Regions from separate parts of the Homo sapiens genome. Here region 2 is linked to region 1. The links come from fine-mapping of genetic effects on gene expression. A gene starts in region 1. The other region holds a variant in brackets. All regions are shown on one strand. Distances are between the middles of the regions.

Region 1 (10,556 bases):
GGTCCCCTTCCCTCCAGCTGCCTCAACTGTCCACAGGACTCTCTTCCCACCTGCGGCCACACTGTGCAACCTGGAATTTCCCCACCTGGGCGGACTCATCACGTCATCACCAATTGGATGCATCTTCTGCTCTGTGCAGCTGGTGAAATCTTTCTCAACCCTTGAGATGCAGCCCAATCTTCTCCTAACATCTGGATTCCTCTCTGTCACTGCATTCCCTCCTGTCATCCTGCCTTTGTTTTCTTGCCCTCCTTTCTCTCCCGGGTGATAGGCATTAACTAAAATTAAATAAAAATTCAGATCATCCTTGCACTTGCTGCATTTCAAATGCTTGGCAGTCACATGTAGTTAGTGGCTACCCTCTTGGACAGCACAGATAGAGATTATTTCCATCACTGCAGAAAATTCTAGACTTTGAGCTTCTTGAGGACAGGGGCTTGATCATTCGACACTGCTTTACAGTGTCTAGCAGTGTCTACCCTGTGGCAGGGGCTCAGGAAATTTTTCCTGAACCGAACCTAACTGAACTGATGTGGGTTTGTCATCAGGGTGTACCTGCTGTTAAAGGAGGTTACGACCTCTGATGCTGGGGTGGCCAGAGGGGATGGGAGTGGGTCTGGCACTCTGAGGAAAGGGGGTGAAACCAGCTGAGAAGTCATCTTTTACCTGCTGGCATGGCCCCAGCCAGGGTTCTGTTGCTATGGGAGAATGGGTGAGTAGGGATGGATTACACCACCCTGGATCTAGAGGACAACCTGGCTTGAGGGGCATGGGGGACGCTGGAAGTCAGGGTAAGAAGCTTGGACTTCATTCTACTGGCATGGAGAGCCCCTGGAAACTACTGAGCAGTAGAGGGATAGGCTAAGCTTATAGGAGGAGCCAAAATTATTACTGTAGCTCCTTAGATCTTAGATCCTGTGACTTAGGAAAGGCAATAGGAGCCCCTGAGCATTCTGGGTCCTTTGTACATTTGGGAGAACAGAGGCCCGGAGTGGGAAATCGTCCTCCTGGGCAGCACAAACATGGCTGCTCCATTCCTATTCAGAAGCCTCGTTTCCTGATTAAGGCTCTGGCATCTGTGGTGTTTCATTGTTCATTATTCATGAATAGACTTGGCCCTGTTCAAAACTAAAGCTTCAATGCTGCAAATGAGGGCTGCAGAGAGGATGTTGGGGAACTCGTCTGTTTGGCTTCAAAACTGCCCCCTTTCCTCTGGAAAAATCCTCTCTAGAATACCGTGCCAAGGCCTGGTGAGTGAGAAATGAGTTTTCATGATGTATCAAAAGAAAAATGCTTCTTTTAAGAAAACGTCTTTATAAATGGCAGCAGATGGGGAAGAATCTAAAAGAAAGAGCAACGCTTGCAGGTTGAAAGCATTACCTCCAGATATGGAGACGTTAGGACTAAGGGAAGGTCAGAGATGGGCCCACGAGGCCAGGTTTCAATGGACTTACCATTTCCTTCTTCGTGCATCCACTGATGGACACACGTAGGCACACGCACCAACAGCCTCCCATGTGGACAGTCCAGGGTGCCCAGAACCCTTCCAGCAAGACTTTGATTTCTGTTTCGAAGGATTTCTTGAGGCCCCTCTGTAGAGCTGCTTGTCTTCTTCATAACCGGTGCCTGGGTCAGAGCAGGTGGGGTGAGCTGCACTCACAGCTGGGAGGTGAGTCTGTGATCTCATTGTGCAGTGGCCCTGCCAGGTTGCTCTTTCTAAAACCTTGGGTATTGCAAATTCTGCTTCTTAGGGACCGCTTGGTCCCCCAGTCCTCCCCCTGCTGACTCCCTTCCTGATGAAGCCACCAGCATGGCTCTCAGGGTAGTGCTGTCTTCCTTCTCTAGAACAGCCACGTGGCCCCAGGGCTGGCACTTACTGGTCACCGTGGTTACAGACGCCTCTTCTAGGCTGTGAACTGTCACAGGAGTGGGTCCACTTCGGCCGACACTTCCTCAGGGGTATTAAGTAGCTGGGGGTCCCCCTGAGTCTCCATCACCCTCTTACCCATTCTCCACCCCCTCCCCCACCACACATACACTCTACTCCCCCAGTGCTGAATAACTTGCCAAAGCACTGTGCTGGCACTGGGGCATGGTAAAGAAGACGGGGCCTCTGCCCTAGGGAGGAGGTGATGAGGGCAGGAATAGCAGCACAGAGGGTGAGAGGCAGAGACAATGGCACTGAGTGGGGGCACGAGGATGGAAGAGGAGCATGCTAGATGGGACGATGGGACCCAGCACTGACCAAATAGAAGCTTGTGGGTGGCACATCAGTCACTCCAGGGACATATGTGGTCACTGCCATTTTCCTAATGAAACTCCTCCAGTTATTAAACAAAGGCCCAGAGTCACAGACTTAAGGACCAGAAGTGGGATTTGAACCCAAGTCCCCCAGATGACAGGGCTCCCACGTGCTTCTCTAGGTCACATGAGCCCACGCTGGAGGGGAGGAGGGGTGTTTCAAGAAGAGGGGAGATGTGGGCAAAGAAAGGCACAGAGACCGTAAGCAGACAGGTGTGTTCCAGAAAATGCAAGTTATTTGGCACTGGGGGAGCAGAATGTATATGTGGTGGGGGAGGGGTGGAAAATGGGTGAGAGGGTGGTGGAGACTCAGTGGGATCCCCAGCTACTTAATTCCCCAACAGGGAAAGAGCCTAGAAACTCCCTCCACCTCCCGCAAAGCAGTGGGGAAGTTGCGGCCACACTGTTTTCGGTCCGCTCATTCCCTCTGCAGTCTGGCTGCTCAGGGGGATGGAGGAGGATGGGGCTTGCAGGCAGGCACAGCCGGTTTGGAAGGTGTCCTGGCTCCAGCACTCAACTTGTGGCATGACACTCAGGGGAGTCACCCTTTCTGGCCCTCAGTTTTCTCCTCTGTAAAATAAGGAAATTCGACAAAAATAAGTTATCACCAATTTATTCACCACCACGTGTCCTTTTAATTCCATCTGCCCCAGGACTGCAGTGGGGAGTCTTTCTTTGCCGATGGACTTCGAAAATCATCACCCCCCGCATTTTTTGTGGTTAACCACAGCTAGCCAGGAACTCAGGGCTTCTCATCAGCAGAGGCCTCTGCCTCTCCAGTATCCAGGGCCGAATGGATTTTGGGTCAAGGCCTCCCTCCCGCAGCCAGGAGGCCCTGGCTTTATGGAATATCGCTTGGAGTCCAGGGAGTCAGCATGGGGACCCCGACAGCTTTCCCATGCCCCAGGCTCCTGGGCCTTTCTGGGGGACCCCTCTGGACCTTGGGCATTAACAAGGTTCATATTTGGAAGGTGCTTTGAGGGGGCTTATAGGTATTTGGAGTTTACTTTTTAAACTATTTGTATTGGAAAAATAACGTGTGCACAAGGGAACAACCCAAATACAGAAGAATATTAAAATCCCCAAGCCCCCAGCCCCCTCCCATGCTACTCTATCCCAAAGTCAGCTCTGCCGGCTCACCCAACCCTGGGTGCCTCTGCCCAGGGTGGGGGTGGAGGTTTGAGGGTTCGGGATGAGGGCTGGACGAAGGGCCTCCTCTCAGGTCCTTGGACACGAGCTGTGCCCATCTGCTCAGTGTGGACCCAGGACTACTGCCCACAGGCCTGGTGCTGCCTGGGCACCCAGACCCACCTCCAGGGTCGCCCTCAGCCCTCCTGATGACTCTCGGACTCGCATCTGTCCCAACGGATGCACCAAAGATTCTCCAGTGGGAAATCAAATTTTTGATAACAAGTGTTTTGAAATAATCACGCACTTGGTGAAAAATCAAAAGAGGGGAAAACCCCTTTCCCATCTGAGACCGCTCCACCCTCGCCAGTTACGAGCTGCCGAGCCGCTTCCTAGGCTCTCTGCGAATACGGACACGCATGCCACCCACAACAACTTTTTAAAAGAATCAGACGTGTGAAGGATTCTATTCGAATTACTTCTGCTCTCTGCTTTTATCACTTCACTGTGGGTCTGGGCGCGGGCTTTCTGCCAGCTCCGCGGACGCTGCCTTCGTCCGGCCGCAGAGGCCCCGCGGTCAGGGTCCCGCGTGCGGGGTACCGGGGGCAGAACCAGCGCGTGACCGGGGTCCGCGGTGCCGCAACGCCCCGGGTCTGCGCAGAGGCCCCTGCAGTCCCTGCCCGGCCCAGTCCGAGCTTCCCGGGCGGGCCCCCAGTCCGGCGATTTGCAGGAACTTTCCCCGGCGCTCCCACGCGAAGCCGCCGCAGGGCCCCCTTGCAAAGTTCCATTAGTTTGAAGGACGCGAATCTCAGCGAGAGAACCTGCGGAAAGCGAATATGTGGGGCGCGCAGACGGGGAAACTGAGTCCCGCGAGAGGGCCGGCCTGTGCGCTGCCCCGCCCGCGCCCCGCCAGCACCGCCGTGCCCGGGCGCGCCCGCCCTGCCCCCTCCGCGGGCGGTCCCGGTCCAGCCGCCCGCCCTCCCTCCCGCCATCCGGCCAGCCCCCATCCCGGGCGCCGTGCCCGTCCCCAAGGCGGCTCGTCACCGCTGCGAGGCCAATGGGCTGGGCCGCGCGGCCGCGCGCACTCGCACCCGCTGCCCCCGAGGCCCTCCTGCACTCTCCCCGGCGCCGCTCTCCGGCCCTCGCCCTGTCCGCCGCCACCGCCGCCGCCGCCAGAGTCGCCATGCAGATCCCGCGCGCCGCTCTTCTCCCGCTGCTGCTGCTGCTGCTGGCGGCGCCCGCCTCGGCGCAGCTGTCCCGGGCCGGCCGCTCGGCGCCTTTGGCCGCCGGGTGCCCAGACCGCTGCGAGCCGGCGCGCTGCCCGCCGCAGCCGGAGCACTGCGAGGGCGGCCGGGCCCGGGACGCGTGCGGCTGCTGCGAGGTGTGCGGCGCGCCCGAGGGCGCCGCGTGCGGCCTGCAGGAGGGCCCGTGCGGCGAGGGGCTGCAGTGCGTGGTGCCCTTCGGGGTGCCAGCCTCGGCCACGGTGCGGCGGCGCGCGCAGGCCGGCCTCTGTGTGTGCGCCAGCAGCGAGCCGGTGTGCGGCAGCGACGCCAACACCTACGCCAACCTGTGCCAGCTGCGCGCCGCCAGCCGCCGCTCCGAGAGGCTGCACCGGCCGCCGGTCATCGTCCTGCAGCGCGGAGCCTGCGGCCAAGGTACTCCGCCGCGCTCCTGGGCAGCTCCCCACTCTCTCCATCCCAGCTCGGACCTGCTTCTGCGGGACTGGTGGGCAGGTTGAGGGGCAGCGAAGCGTTGTGGGGTGGCCAGGGCAACTCTCGGGGACAGGCAGGTGGGCCCCGGGGTGGCGGATTTCCGCGGGCTGCCTCGGAACCGAGCTTCGCGCCCAGCCCGGGGCCGGTTCTGCGCCCAGACGATGCCAGTACGCCCGGCCTGCACTCTGGGGCTCGAGACGCCGGGCGACCGGCCATGGAGTGCCCTGAGGGCAACCACACAGCGCGGGGACCCCAGGACAAATAAGAGGAATGGGGGCATAAAGGAAGGAGAGAAGTTCAGGACTGGGAATTGGCGCCTCGCAGAGCGGCTTCAGGACCACAAGAAGTCATTTCGGTTGCTTTTTCTTCTATTTACGTCCTCCGTCCCCTTTAAAATTCACTGCTTTGATCACGGGACCGCTCAGTGAAAACTGTATGTAACTCTTTTGGAAAGGAACAGTGTTTGCCGGCCCGCCCCGGAGTTTCTCCAAAAAGTCTACCCCGAGCAGGGAACGGTTTGGCACCGCTCTCGTTTCGGCGGCGTTGCTGCCTGTCTTGCTTTCCTCGTTTTGAGCCAGCCCTACAAAAATGAAAGTGGCTCCTTTTGAATAAGCTGAATCGGGCTTTGGATCACGAAATCTGCAGAGGCGGAGAAGGGACCGGGTTAGTGATGAGGAAGAAGTCTACCCCTCTGTTCCTACAGCCGCACACAGGACCTGTTCTGGCAGGGGAGACGGTGGTGATGGGGGAAGGAGTGGAATGGAGCAATGTCTAACTCTCTCGCGGGACCTTCCGGAGAGATGCTCCTCATCTTCAGGCAGAGGCCATGTGGAAAAATAATATCGAGTTCAGCAGCGGCCAGCCCCGCGTTGTAGGAACCAGACAGCGGGGCTTGGCAGTGCGCTTGGGCGCAGCCGTGCCGCTGCTGCCGGACCCCAGTGCTGCCTCCTCAACACGGGCAGTGCCAGGAGAGGGGCATAGGGGAGCACAGTGCAGAGGGACTGGTCTAGAGTTTACTTTATAGGAATATGGTTCGGTGTGACCAACTAGGGCTTAGCATAGTTTGGCTTACGTGGACGGGAAGATGCCAGAGCCGAACTGGGTGAAATTCGAGATTGCGTATTTCACCAACACAGGAGCACAGCCCTCGGGAAACTCAGCCTAGTCAGGCAGTAGAGAGTTGTCCCGGAGAGAAGTGATCCTGCAGACTCGAGAAGGGGCATGATGATAGCACACGTCTGTTGAGCACCCAGTCTGTGTGCCGGGTGTGTTACCTCTGTGACCTCATTTGGTCAAACGAGGAGGCAGTTGCTCCTCTCTCTCTCTTTTTTTTTCTTAAGAGACAGGGTCTCCCTCTGTCGCCCATGCTGGAGTGTAGTGGTGTGATCATGGCTCACTGCAGCCTCCGACCCCTGGGCTCAATGATTCTCCTGCTTCAGCCTCCCAAGTGGCTGGGACTACAGGCGGATGCCACCACACCCAGCTTCTCATTCCCGTTTTACAGATAGCGGAGCTAAGGTTGAAAAACTTGCCCAAGGTCATTCAGCTGGAATTTAAACCCAGACAGCCTCATTCAGAGGAGTCAGCCCAGCACTTAACTCCAAGGGTGTGGGAGAGGGGTCAGGTGCTGTAAATTTCCTGGTGGGCTGGACGTGCATCCCCCTCAGAGCTGGGAACAGCATACACAAAGCCTAAGACTTGTTTGGAGGTGAATAGATCAGTGTGGCTGGGGAACGTTTTGGGAGGGCAGCAGGAGTGAGCCAGGCTGGTGGCCCAGAGTCCCAGGGCTGAAGAGGCTGGCTGTGCCCCGTGCCCTGTGCGCAGATGTTCTTGAACTGGAGCAACTCAAAGCCTAGTGTAGTGTAGGGCTGACCTAGCAGTGGAGTGCGGAATGCATCCAGGGTGGAGAGTTTAGACTACTGCAATAATCTGGGTGTGAGGCGACAACATTGAAAAAGCATGTTTTTGTCCAAAACAAGCCAGCTGTTACTGGTCTCGCTGTTTGTGGTCTCATCGCACGGGGTCCTGAGTTGCTGGCACCATGCGAGCCGCCTAATTTATTGCTAGTGAGGCAAGTTGCTTAACAAGTTTTGGAGTTGGCTGAGTCCCTGTGTGGAGGAAAACAGGTCCCCCATTGGCCATCGGGCTCACAGCGGGCCCCCGGTGTACCAGTGAGGGGACAGCCACAGAGGGATAAGCATGGTGGCTTTGAAAGGAGGGAGAGACAGAGTGGGTACAATGCTTTTCTTATCCCTCCCTCCTTCTTTTGCAAATATTTATTGAGCTCTGTAGGGTGTCTGACACCGTTTGCATGTTTGTCTGTCTGGCACATCGGAGGTACTTGGTACGAGTGGATTAGTGAATGAATAAATGAATGAATGAAGACAAACGGGAGGTGCTTGCGATACACAGCCATTCTGTTTTTCCTTAGTGGAAGGCACTGCTTTGCTGCGCCCCCTCTCTGGATCTCACACTCCACCCTTGACTTTTCGGAGGTGTTTCCGAGGACAGGCGCCTGGGAGCCAGCAGACTTCATTCAGTCCAAGCCAGGCTCCAGGACTCAACAGCTGGTGCCCACGGGCAGGTCACTTGACGTCACTGTTAAATGAGGTGAATTGGCTGCCTGCTCTGGCTGGAAGATTGGCGGGAGAGTCACTTTAGCTGCCATGGACATGAGCCTTTTCTAGGGGTGCCACTTGACTAGAGGCCTGGAGTTGGAGCAAGTCATACACGGATCTGGAGACAGAGCTCTCGAGGCAGGAGCGGGTGCTGCGATTTCAAATATTATAAGGTGGCTTTGTCTGGGGCAGAGCATGCCAGGGGATGAGAGGTAGAAATGTCATCAGATCAGGGGTCCCCAGGGAGGTGACTAGCACTTTGGGTCACAGTAGATCTTTGGATAGAGGAACATGTCACCATTCAAAGGAAAGCACTTTCATCTGTAAGCTGTTTATTGAATAGACCTCAGAGAACATCTCTGCTCACCGCTCTGGAAATGAAGGCAAATCATCTATTTCAGAAGTCAATGCACTGGCAGGGTTTGGATGGGAAAGTATACAATTCAGCTAGAGAACAAAGATCTGTCATCTCCAGCTGTACTGGTCAGATGATTACAAAAAAGAAAGGAATTGAAATACTAATAGGGTACTAATAATGAGGGCTAACATATATGTTGTGCTTATTCTATGCCGGGTGCATACTAATTCATTTGATCCTCCGGACAGTCCTATGAGTGAGTGCTGTAGTCTTCCCTGGGTTACAGCTGGGCAGCTAAGTCACAGAGAAGTACCTTGCTCAGGACTGGTGGTCCCACACAACTGGATGGAGAGCCTCGTTCATAACCACCATGCTGTGCTGTTGACAGAGCAACAGAGATTTTAAACCAACCCCAGCTAAGCCCCAGCTAATAGCTGAAATAAACAGGGCTCCAGATGGCTGTGGCTTAGAGATGGAACAGGACAGATCACAGCCTTCACTCTGCAGGCTCAGGAGCCTGAAGACAAGGTTGCCTCCAGTTGCCGTCAGTGCAGCCCTCACTAAAGAAAAGCAAAAAGAGCCGAGGGACTGTAGGAAGGCTGTTTCCAAGCCAGAGATCCAGACAAACTGCTCTTGAAGAGAGAAAGCCCTTCCAGATTCCCCCATGTCCCAAAAGACCAGCCGGGATTCCGGACCTCTGCTAAAACATGGACAAGAAGCCAGGAACGAGACCTGAAACAGACTTCCCAAACAGCAGAAGCCTCATCCATTTCTCCTGCTAGTACATCCTCCAGGAAAGCCCACCCTACTCCATGCAGCAGCCCAGACAAGCTTGGAGGTCTGCAAGCTGCAGGGGTGCCCAGAAACTCCACCCCTGGAGGTTTTTAGGATCGCCTGCTCCTGGTCTCACCCCAGAGCCTCTAAAGGCAGAGGCTGTATGTACATACCTGGTGAAGAACCAAGGGCTTAGATGGTTGCTTTACTTCTTGGAGCCCTGGAATGTTTGTAAAATTTACTTTTTTTTTTGAGACAGTGTCTCGTTCTGTCGCCTACGCTGGAGTGCAGTGGCGCGATCTCGGCTCACTGCAAGCTCCACCTCCCGGGTTCATGCCATTCTCCTGCCTTAGCCTCCAGAGTAGCTGGGACTACAGGCACCCGCCACCACGCCCAGCTAATTTTTTTGTATTTTTTGGTAGAGACGGGGTTTCACCGTGTTAGCCAGGATGGTCTCCATCTCCTGACCTTGTGATCCGCCCGCTTTGGCCTCCCAAAGTGCTGGGATTACAGGAGTGAGCCACTGCACCCGTGCCAAAATGTACTTTATTTAGGTGACTCTTTCGTGGGAACCTCAAACAAGCAATCATTGCTAGCTGAGTGCTGACCCTGTACTGAGCTCTGGGGAGACAGGGTTGAATAAAACAAAGTCACTGCCCACAGGTAACTTATATTCAATACAATGGGGGAAAATACAATCACTGCTTCCCTGGGGTTGTATTTTTCCATTGTTAAAGTGGGCAGTTTGCTCGAGAGTCATTTTCACTATTGGCAATTCAAATACACCTTTTGTCAGTTAAAAAACAAGTGTGCCAGGGACCTGAGCTTCATCTTAGGGCAGGGTGGGTGGAAACATTTGTGAGTCTCCAGCTTTTAGTCACCTGAAACTTGGAAACTTGGAGGTCTTTTGAGCAGTTTATGAGTCTCTGCCTGCTCTGGTCGGCTGCCTTCTTTTATTGCTCTGTTGGTTTTGCTAAAGAGTTAAAATATTAAGGCTTCATAAAATTAGGAAGTTAACAAGCTCAAAAACCAAGTGTTTGAGTTACTTCATTCCACTGAGAGAGCTGTAAATGGGTTGCATTGGAACTTAAAATAACTGCATTGAGTAAGTGATGGTGGCGGGCACCATGAGCTAACTGTGGTCAGAAGCCTGATGGCCTCCGCTTTGGGGCTGGATTCTCCGTTTGGAGCTGTGTGATCCTGGATGAGTTTCATGCCTTGGATTCAGAAATCAGACTTTCCATGAGCTTATATTTCAAGTGAATAAATAGCTCTGGTCAGGCTTAATTTGAAGAAGAAGTAAGCTTGGCAGTGGGTGAGGGTTCCTTGGAAGGCCAACTGGGGCGGAGGGGCTGAGGGCAAGCGGCTCTGGCCCTTCCTGGGGTGTTACCTGACCAGGTAACAGCTCCCTCGACCTCTCGGAGCCTCGGCAGTGAGGGGATTGGGCCAGTTGATCTCTGAGGCTCCTTTTAACTAGAATGGTCTGGGATTTTTCTAAGAAAACAAGTCTTTGAGGAGGTTGTGGTCACCTCATTCCTAATTTAAAGCCTGGGGAGGCTTCCTTATGAGCTACTTCTTTTTCCTAAATTATTGATGGTTAAAGCCAAGGCTGGCATCGAATAGATGTGATCCATCTTGAGCCTGGTTGCTTTGTGTTTCAGCTTT
Region 2 (11,171 bases), 80 kb after region 1:
CTAAGCAATCCACAGATTCAATGCAATCCTTATCAAAATTTTAATGATTTTTTTACATAAATATAAAAAAAATCTGAAATTTGTATGGAACCACAAAAGACCTCAAATAGCCAAAGCAATCCTGAGCAAAAAGAACAAAGCTGGAGGCATCACACTACCTGAATTCAAAATATACTACAAAGCTATAGTAATCCAAACAACATGGTATCGGCATTTAAAAAAAGACATATAGGTCGGGCGCAGTGGGTCACACCTGTATTCCCAGCACTTTGGGAATCCAAGGTGGGCAGATCACTTGAGGTCAGGAGTTTGAGACCAGCCTGGCCAACATGGTGAAATCCTGTCTCTACTAAAAATACAAAAATTAGCCAGGTGTGGTGGCGGACACCTGTAGTCCCAGCTACTCAAGAGGCTGGAGCAGGAGAATCACTTGATGGGAGGAGGGTGAGGGATAAAAGACTACAAACTGGATTCAGTGTATACTAGTTGGGTGATGGGTGCACCAAAATCTCACAAATCACCACTAAGGAACTGACTCATGTAACCAAATACCACCTCTTCCTAGAACCGATAAGTGAATTCAGCAAAGTTTCAGGATACAAAATTAGTGTACACAAATCATTAGCTCTGCTATACACCAACAGTGACCAAGCTGAGAATCAAATGAAGAACTCAATCTCTTTTATGATAGCTGCAAAAATAAAATAAATACTTAGGAATATATCTAACTGAGGAGGTGAAAGACCTCTACAGGGAAAACTACAAAACTCGGCTGAAAGAAATCATAGATGCCACAAACAAATGGAAACACATCGCATGCTCATGGATGGGTAGAATCAATATTGTAAAAGTGACCATACTGCCAAAACAATCTAAAAATTCAATGCAATTCCCATCAAAATACCACCATCATTCTTCACAGAACTAGAAATCCGATCATTTTCAACAACATGGATGAATCTGGAGGACATTTCATGAAGTGAAATAAGCCAGGCACAGAAAAATACTGCGTGATTTCACTTATATGTGGAATTTTTAAAAAGCTGAACTCACAGAAGCAGTGCAGAATGGTGGTTACCAGGGGCTGGGAGTGGGGAGTGTTGGGGAGATGTTGGTCAAATGCAAAATTTCAGTTAGGAGGAATAAGTTCAAGAGATCTATTGTAAAACATGGTGACTATAGTTAATAACAATGTATTGTATTCTTGAAAATTGCTGAGAGTAGATTTTAAGTGTTCTCACTACCAAAAAATAAGTCTGTGAGGTTACGCATATGTCAATTAGCTCAATTTAGCCATTCCACAATGTATACATACTTCAAAATAACATGTTGTACATGACAAATATATACAATTTTCATTTATCAATGAAAACACATAAACAAATAAGTATTTGTTCACACACACACACACACACACACACACACACAAAATAAAGAAACACCACTCTGGCTGCTGTGGGGAGAGCCTACCACAGAGTACTAAGAGTTGAGGCCAGGACAACAGCTTTCCAGGGGGGAAGGGAACAACTTGGACTGGGACGCTGGAAGCTGGCAGCAAAGATGGGTTGGGATATATTTTGGCTCTGGCACCACCAGGACGTGTCTATGGATTGTATATGGGAGATATGAGAAGTAGGGGAAAAGGGGAAACCCTAGTGCTCTCTGCTGTACCACACTGCCTTGGATGGCCCTGGAGGTCACTGGAGCCTATATGCTGCTGGATGGCCTTCACACGTGGTTCCAACACTTCACGGGACTGGGAGCTCGTGCTCCACACAGCCCCCTGGAAACTCTTGACCTGGGAGAAAGCACCTTCCCAGGATGCGTTGTATTTTACTTTTCTGCAACATCCACCTGGTGTTACTTCCAGTTCTCCTCTCTGGAGGTACAACAAGGAGAATCCATTCCTTTTCCTAAGAACTTCCTCCAAAAACTTTGAGACTTCATCCTTCTTGGGTCTTTTCCTGCTTTAAGAAATGAGTGTTTCTCTCAAGAGCTAGAGGAAGGACTTCCATATCCTTCCATATCCTGGTCTGTGCTGGTGTTTCTGCTTCTTACATGTTCTTTCTTAGTCTTTCTCTCTTCCCTCACACCCCTCTTTTGACCATTCATTTAAAAGCCCCACATGTGCACACAGCCACTCACACATGCATGCACACTGATCTCTAAAATGGCAGGATTGATATTCTTTTTTTTTTTTTTTACTCATCTCTGTACCCCAGGTGCTGAGGTGTTTGGGAATAACAAACAACCTCCTACATCATCCAACTATGGCATCATTTTTATGAGCTTCTTGATTATTTTGCAATCAAAAACTTCAATAATTGTTTTTCTTATGTATGTATGTTATGTATGTGCCATAGATTTGAACAATACCAAAATTTATACAGAAAAAGAGGAAGGTCACCTCATAAATGTACATTGCCACTTTCAGAGGTAAATAGTCTTCATGTTTTCCATTCAGTGACCCAAGATCTCTGGGTCACCGGGCCTGGAGATGATCTTGACAGTGGAGGAATCAGCATTAAATAGGTGGAATCTCACTGGGAGGAAGTGGGTCCTTTTCAGGTGTCCTGCACTTGTCTGTTAGGTCAAGACATCTCAGTTTGGGGTTAGCCTCTACCACTGTCTAACAACCAAGGTGCTCCCATTTAACAACGAGAGAGCACAACTCAGGCTTTGATCTATACTAACCCAACTGACTTTTTGAAATGTAGAATGTGTCTTTCAGAGCACATTTGCCACCTCCAGGAGCTCAGGACATGAGAAGTAAACATATGAGAAGAAATTTGACAATGCCAGGTGGCGCATAGAAAATGCCAAATTATTGGGAAGACATTTTCTTATGCTCCACCAAAGGGGGCAGCTCGAGGTGAGTCCTGGACAGTGAATGTGGCTACAGAGGTAGAGCTAGGCTGCTGCAAGCAATTGAAAAGAGCTGGAGAAGAGTAAGTGCTGTTACTAGGACACAGGTGGGTAGGAGAAGAAAGTCTGCAGAGAGGCAGGTGGGCTGCCTGGAGTTGGCGTAACACCTGGAATGTCAAACTTGGAAGTCTGTGCTTTAGGCCAAGGGCATTGAAGATGTCTGGAAGATTCTTCTCATGGCAGCTGGAAATACAGGACAAAAGGCTAAAGAATTGATTCAAAGCCCCAAGAAGATAAGACAAAGAAGCAGGCTATTTTGAGTCTCCAGATCCACGAAGAACTGCTGTAGAGATGAAGCTAAGCCTCCTTGTAGGGCCAGGCATGTGCGTCTCTCCTTGTTCAGGGTGCACACAAGGCTGTGCCTGGTTCCTGCTGGCTTCTGCAGCCTCATCTCTCACCACTCACTTCCTAGACTTTCTTCTGCACTCACAATCCTCCCAGTGTCTGGTGCTTGCTGCTATCTTTCCGCGCTGCGCATGCTAAACCTTCTGCCCTAATGCTCTCCCCATTGTCACTACCTGCCCCCCGCTTCCTTTCTGCCTATTCTTCTTTCATGACTTGGCCCAGCTACCGCCTTCAGGACTTGATGCTCTTACTCTGTGCCACTCTCTCCAGCAAGGGGACTCTCCTAGGTGCCCTCATGGTCTCTTTGGTTACCTGATTGCACTGTGTTGTTATTACCTGCTTGCCTAGGTCTCCCCACCTGCATCGTAAGCTCTTCAGGGACCTTATTTTATTCATGCTGACTCTCAATGCCTGGGCCAAGACCTGACATGGAGTAGGTATTCTATAATTTATTAGTGAATGGATGATGCGGATTAACTCTTCATTTGTCTTCCAGGAGCTAGTTTAAACTAAAGCAAAATGTTGTGTGTTATGAAGCATCAGAAAGGATGTAAGGATGGCGAGACCCTAGGACTGTGGTTCTCAAGTGTTGGGCCATGGCCTCTTGATGTGTTATAAATTCTTCTCAAAAGGGTCAATGGATTTGGATCAACATATGAAATAACTTTTGTTAAAATAAATGATATATATTGTTCTGATAGTGTTCATCACAGGCTCATTGAATGAAGCCGGACATTTGAAGTGAAGTAGCTTTTCTCCTGACCTTTCTTCCAAGGAAGAGTTAAGAGGCTTAGTGTAAAATTGAGCCTGAGCCAGATGTGAACATGAGTATAGAAAAGAGTCCAGACAGGGCAATAAACATTCCTGACCAGGGATATGCTGGTAAACAGCAGTCAAGGGAATATCACACTAACTGTGGATGCTTTCATAGGCAGCATGAAAATTCTATTGTAATCTTTAGTGTTGTTTTGAGTCTTTTATTCTTTAAGATCCTGCGAAAATTCTAGGCGGAAAGCCCTGCCCTAGAAAGAGTTCCTGAGTGACCAGTCCGCCAGTCAGTAGGTGGCAAGTCTTCGGGCAGAGACTATGGGAGATGTTCCTTAAGCCTGATACCATTTTTTCAAATCAATAAAATGATAAAAAGCCAAGGACTGCCTTCCTCTTGTTTTTACAAAACTGTCACCCTTTGGCAAGTTTTGTAAATGTGTGTTGTAATCCAGATTATTTAATCATTTCCTGGCAGCAATAGTTTTTCAGTCATGCTGTTCATGGGTAAATGATTTTCAGAGTGATAAGAGAAAGGGCGCTGACAATGGGCTTACAGTGTGAACGCTTCTGTTTTTTATAACTTGCCTAAAATTGCATCACAGGTTGGATTTCAATCATGATTTGGTGACTAGCTCCCTTTCATATATAACCTTTCTATATTTTCACGAATTTTGTGCTTGCTTGATGTATAGTGTCTGAGCTAAAATCTCCCATGATGGTTGTGGTTTTATTAATTTCCGCTTGCAATTATGTGAGGTTTTGCTCAGGATGTTTCAAGATTATTTTGGTAGATGCAACCAAATTTTGGTGCAATGTTTCTTTTATTCTTATGTAGCCATCCTCTTTATGTCTGTTAATAATTTTTACTATAAATTACATAATATTTTACTATAAATTAATATCACCATGCAAACTTTTGTTGAGTACTTGCATAGTACATCTTTTCCCAATCTTTCTATGTCATTTTGTTTTAGGCATAACTTTTATAGATAGGACAGAAGCAGCCTGATTAAAAAAATACATATGGATAGTCTCTTTTAAAAAGTTAGTTTAATCCATTTCTGTTTAGTGTGATTTCTTATACATTTAAACTTTATTTCAAACATCTTCTGTATTTTCTATTTACCATCCTTGTTGTTTGCATTTCTTTCCCAGCCTGTCTTTGAAGTTTATTAGTGTTCCCCTTTCTATTTCCTTTGCTGATGTGGAAGCTGTAAATTGTGCATTTCTTATTTTTAATTCTTACCCTTAAATTTTACATTTTAAATTAATACTTAACTCTAACTTTTTTCTAGAAAAACTTAAAGTTATTCAGTATCTATCCCAAATGAGTGTAGTAGTTACTGGCATTTTGATAACTTCTTTGTGATGTGTTTATTATGTGTAAACATGTCTTCAGGCAGCAATGTTATCATAGCTCACTACACCTACATGCAGGCTTACAAATACTTTGAGTGTCTTTTTTTTTTTTTTTGAGACAGAATCTTGCTTTGTCACCCAGGCTGGAGTGTAGTGGCTTGATCTTGGCTCGCTGCAACCTCTGTCTCCAGGGTTCAAGCGATTCTCCTGCCTCAGGTTCCTGAGTGGCTGGGATTACAGGTGCCCACCACCATGCCTGGCTAATTATTGTGTATCTATTGTTTTGAGTACTTTGTCTTCAGTTCTCTTGAGAAGAGATTTTCAATTGCTTCTGGAAACTGCTCTATCCATTTGAGTGGGCATTGCCATGGTCTTGAAGATGCCACAGGTGGCCTTACTTAGCTGATTGGCTCAAGGGTAAGCATATGACCTAAATTAGCCCAATCAGAATCCTTCACCAATTTTTTGAATAGGAACAGAAAAAAAGAGGGCTTGTCCTCTCTAGTCATGGATGCTGTGACATATGGGATGTCAGCACTATCAGCACAATTCCTCTAATCCACAGTGGAAGAGAATGAAGAAAAGAGCAAAAACCCTCCAAAAGACAAATGATTAAATGCCACTAGGATCTTTGGGAGAGGGGCCAAGAGAAAGTGCAAGAGACTCTCCGCAGGCTGTGTGCGTGAACACAAAGGCCCATAATCGTGACTTTTTAAGGAACACTGGAAGTGAGCATGGTCAAAGGATGAAAATGTTGCTCATACATATAGATATGCCACCATCCAAAGACAGACAAAGGAAGACACTAAGGAATAGAAAGATGAGCTGGAGTGGGAATGAAGAAAAGTTTATAAAATCAGGAAAGGGGAAATGTTAAAACAGTTATTCTTTGAAGTCCATGAATGTGGCTCATTTAGAACAAGGAAAGGCAACATGAAGCATGTTATGTGGCAGGAGATACATTCTTAGAATATGTGAACCTGAG[C/T]GTGCTGCTGCTGAAATATGAAATTCAAAATGAATTTTGAAAAAAAAAAAAACCCTGAATGATAGGCTTCATTTCATATTTGGCTTCCATCTGAATCTCTTTTTGTTCTCTGGGTGTGTTTGTGCATGCACACACGTGCACATGTGCTTAATTAGGGGAGAGGCTGCAGCTTAGCCAGGTGAGAGGTGAGGGAGCATGACCATTGGCCAGTCCAGCCCAATCCTGTTTCTGCAGGTCTCAGAGGAAGACAGAGGGGATATTGCCCCAGCAGGGCCGGGACAGAGAGAGACGAGCATTTTCCTTTCTTCATTTTGGGCAGTGGCTAACAACGTTTATCTCATGACTTTTGTGCATTGTTCCCCATAAAAAAGGGTGACTAAGAGTTGTGGAAGCTCATGTTGTAAATGTTTGAAAACATGTAGATTTTACCATCTGGGGGTGGTTCAAGAGGTGTTTTAACTGGAAGACTGAGAGGTAGATAAGTTGGCTTCTTACCAAGTCCCTTCTTGTCAAGAGATCCTCAGATATTACAGATATGTGATCTGTGATGAAGACAGTTGTGGCTGGCAAGCCCCGGCCAGATGCCCTAACGAAGAGCATCTGAATGCACACTCTGCAGCTTTAGGTGTCATTTCAGAGCTCATGGTGACAGATGGCTGCAACATTCTGGATGCCTCCCGGAGGCAAAGAGAAACAGTGGGAGCGGCATAGGAAGGCTGTGAAAGAGGTCCTGAGGGAGAATACCCATGCCAGGTGCATGCATGCCAACGGGAAAGTAGTTAGCATGAAGACAGGCAGGGGCTAGTGTAGCAGGCAGTCTCAGGCCTGGTAGCCATGCCAGGGACAAGATGCCCACAGCTCGTCAGCAATACCCAGTCTGAATTCTGAGACCAGGCTGCCAGGTGTGGAGTAGGCTGGTGAGAGGGTAACCAAGAAGGCCCTGAAAGAAAGCCAGGCCAAGCCAGAAGGAAAGAGAAGGAGACTGACCAGGAAGACCGTGGGAAAAGAGTAAGGCCTTGCGGAGAGGAGCAATAAGTTGTGGGCACTGACTGTGTGAGGTGACAGAGCTGAGGGTGATTGAGGGGGGCTGGGTGACTTGCGTTGGTAGCATGAACAGGAAGCTGCCCTCAAGTCCTTAGCCACTCCAGTCACAGTCATTGCCCCACAAAGAGAGCTGACGTAATCCGCCCCTTGCACCGGGTTTCCGGGGTGCGGTGGGGGTCCTGCTGTGGATACTCATTAATAGGCAGATAGGTGGCTCAGTCCTTCTTCTGGAACAGTCACCTGGAGATGGCCCCTTGCACAGTGTGGAAGCTGAGTGAGATGGCACTTCTCCCATGGAGGCCATGGTGGCCTCCTGTCACTTTCCCATCCCCTTCCTGTCCATGCATCCCCCAGCTGAACTGTGTTGATGCAAAGGAGGAGAAACTGGGGCCCCACAATGGGCTTCTGCCTTGGAATGACAAGCAACTCCCTGCCATGGCCCACAGAAGCCCCTTCCCTGGGAGACCTTTCCCGAGGCTGAATGATGCCATGGGGGGCAGGAAGTGTTGCAGCCATTAGTTTGAATTTGGGCACCATGGTCTGGCTTCTCTGAGCTCTGTCTTCTCATCTCTAGAATGAGGAGAGGAAGAAGGACTGGGCTTGAATGTTTGCTGACATCCTTGTTAGCTCTCAGATCCTGGTATTTAAGGGACCCTTCAACTTCAGGTGGGGCAGTTTCTAAGCAGAGAAGAAAAGGGGTATTGAATATGCATGAAGGAATGGGGCCTTCTTTCTTCCTGTGGGTTTAAGGCTGGGTACTCCTGCTCTCTTGTTTAAGAGACATGGTCTCTGTCGCCCAGGCTGGAGTGCAATGGTGCAATCTCATTGTAACCTGGAACTCCTGGGCTTAAGCGATCTTCCCACTTTAGCCTCTTGACTAGCTAAGACTGCAGGCACACGCCACCATGCCTGGCTAATTTTTAAGTTTTTTTTTTTTTTTTTCTAGAGGCAGGGTCTCATTATGGTGGCCCGGCTGGCCTTGAACTCATGCCTCAGGCCTCCCAAAGTGCTGGGATTACAGGCGTGAGCCACCACACCCAGCCTCTGTTGTTAGAAGGCCAACCCAACTGCCATTTTTATTTCTATTTTCTCAGCTAAAATGGAAAGAGAACTTTAAAGATTTCTTTGAGCAAGCTGATGCTTAGGAAGCCAGACTAATCTCCACCCCCAAATAGCTAGGAAATGATTTTTCAATGTACAAAGGGAGTCCTCACAGCCAACCTCCCTAAGTTCCCATAAAAATAGAGTTTCATTCACAGAATGCTACATATTCTGGGACGGTTTTGTTATGTGAAGAAGAATGTAATGAAGAACATTTCTAGGGGTGACATGTGACCCATAAATCCTTTGGGATTAGGTGGGTGCCTATGTATGATGGTATGTTGTTCATTTTATTATTTTGTGCCTTATTTGAAAGTTATATTTATCCTTTAGAAATTCACTAGTATGGTTGATACATTGAATAAACATAATCCATGGTATAATCAAAACGCAAACTTACTTTTTGTCTTTGCACCTTAATTTTTTTTTTTTTTTTTGAGACGGAGTCTCGCACTGTCGCCCAGGCTGGAGTGCAGTGGCGCGATCTCGGCTCACTGTAACCTCTGCCTCCCGGGTTCATGCCATTCTCCTGCCTTAGTAGTATCTTTCCCTGCTCCAGGACGAAAACTTGCGTGGGTCCTTCTTCAGTAACAGAGTGCTATGGTTACTTTAAATCACAGAGCAGAGTTTTGGGGCTGGCCACCTGGGGGCCAGCAGAGGCATGGGCACTAAACCCAGATGCTTGGACAGTAGAGTCACCCACCACTGCTTGAGCCAACTGGCCTGGGCAGGAAGCATGTCACACAAGATCTGCTTCTACAAGGCTGCAGTGACGGGCAGACTGGAGAGGACCAGGTTTCAATACAGCGTCAGAGAACCACAGGGAGAGACGGGGTCGGGGCTGAAGCACACGAGACCACATTTGGGACCTTGGCATGATCCGAGGAGGCAGGAGGACCCCTGAGGATGATGGATGTGGGCCTCCTAAGCAACACTGGGGAATGGGAGGTTTGTGGCATGGTTTGATTGAATCAAGGAAGATTAATGTGGAGATTTTTCCATCTGAATATCTCCACTGCATGTGATAAAAATACAAACATATCATCCTTCTTAAACACCTTTGTTTGGAAGGGTTATTTTATAAAAAATGTAAAGTAAAAGCTTCCCTTAATATATTTTGCTCTTTAAAAATGAAACATATTATCCTTAAAAAAAGAATGGAGCCAGGCATGGTAACTCTTGCTCAGGAGGCTGAGGGGAGAGGATTGCTTGAGTCCAGGGGTTCAAGACCAGCCTGGGCAACATAGCAAGGCCCTTGCTTCTAAAAAAATTAGACTTTCTTTTGTTATTTCATTGTAAAATTTAAAATGGTTTGGGAATTACATTTTGATCACTTGTTGCAGCAATTTGTTGAAGAGACCATTTTAAGTCCAAGTATGAATCAAATTATACCTCATTTTAAACTCATGCTAACTGCTTTCTTGTCAAGACATTAGAATTTTCTTTCTTCTTTTCTTTCTTTCTTTTTTTTTTTTTTTTTTGAGACAGGCTCTCACTTTGTTACCCAGGCTGCAGTACAGTGGCATGATCTTGGCTCTTTGCAGCCTCGACCTCCTAGGCTCAAGCGATCTCTTGCTTTAGCCCCCTACAAGTAGCTGGGACTATAGGTGTGCTCCACCACGCCCAGCTAATTTTTTTGTAGAGACAAGGTTTTGTCACGTTGCCCAGGTTTTGTCACGTTGTCTCGAACTCCTGGGCTCCAGTAATTCATCTGCCTCGGCCTCCCAAAGTGCTGGGATTACAGGTGTGAGGCACCGTGCCTGGCCTGGAATTTTCTAAAGTGGTTTGTGGTCAGACACTTGTAAGATCTGAGGACATGTTTCCCAGGAATGTGAAGGATCATCTTGACAGCATCCCATGGGGCCCAGAGTAAGCCCTACACTGCTCTGGGAAGCGTCATCCAATCCCTCAAATCCATGCAGTCCTGGCTTCTGCCAGGCACTGGCACATGCTGCCCTCCTGATACAGCATGACAGACAACCTGGGCTCTGTTAGTGGCTTTATTTTCACCTTTAAATTTAAAAAACAATTTCTTCAAGTAATAATTCAAAACAACCAGTGGTTTTCTATTTCTAAAAAAGTAATCCATGACATAAATGAAGATTCGAACTTATGAATGTCTAGGCACTGCCAGGTACTGTCTCAGAAATCTTTCACTATCGTCCATCTAACTCTTAGCTGTTCTCCAAATTCAAGCTTACAGAGGTCTTTGATTTCACCTAAGTTTTTTTTCTTAAAATCAAGTGTCTTCTGAGGTTTGTAGTGCACATCTCTAGTGCCAGTTCTGATTCACAGGTCTTGAAGTGGCTTAGTGGTTTTCATCGGTTATTTTCCAACGCACCAGTGACTTTTCTCCCCAGCTGGATTATAAATTCCTCAGGCTGGGATTGCAGCTTTCCAGACCCCTGGCACAGGCTATTTGGTGCAGTTGTGCTCAAGAAATGTGTGCATCTCCATGCATCTCAATACAGACACACCGCCATTTCTTATTCTATCTTCTGTCTTTATAAAATTCATCTCTGACCACTTTATAAAATTCGTCAAGAACCTGCCAGAGCTCCCCATTTCCTACTGAATTAAATACAGAGTCCTCTATGAGCTCTTTGAGATCACTGCCTTGCAGCCCAAACTTCCTTTCTTCTAT

Direction of the effects. Positions count from the first base shown, and alleles are read on the strand shown. Sizes are in standard deviations (SD) of each study's normalised expression.
For the expression in whole blood of the gene that starts at base 4,513 in region 1, allele T in region 2 goes with a higher level than allele C (large effect, 0.92 SD a copy in Lepik 2017).

The links. PIP is the estimated chance that this variant, and not a neighbour inherited with it, causes the effect.
Region 2: its variant is the best candidate, but not a certain one, in a credible set for the expression of HTRA1 in whole blood (Lepik 2017, PIP 0.81).

The regions. Positions count from the first base shown.
Region 1 is chr10:122,457,041-122,467,596 of GRCh38, forward strand. HTRA1 (HtrA serine peptidase 1) reads left to right here and starts at 4,513. Exons shown (of 9, transcript NM_002775.5): 1 at 4,513-5,084. The coding sequence starts at 4,613. ARMS2 (age-related maculopathy susceptibility 2) reads left to right here. Exons shown (of 2, transcript NM_001099667.3): 2 at 1-312. It overlaps HTRA1-AS1 (HTRA1 and ARMS2 antisense RNA 1), which reads right to left and starts at 4,365. Exons shown (of 3, transcript XR_946382.3): 1 at 3,909-4,365; 2 at 1,455-2,871.
Region 2 is chr10:122,537,188-122,548,358 of GRCh38, forward strand. No RefSeq gene overlaps it. Among named protein-coding and RNA genes, the nearest start is that of DMBT1, 18 kb to the right of the region's middle. The variant C/T (reference allele first, on the strand shown) is at 6,383.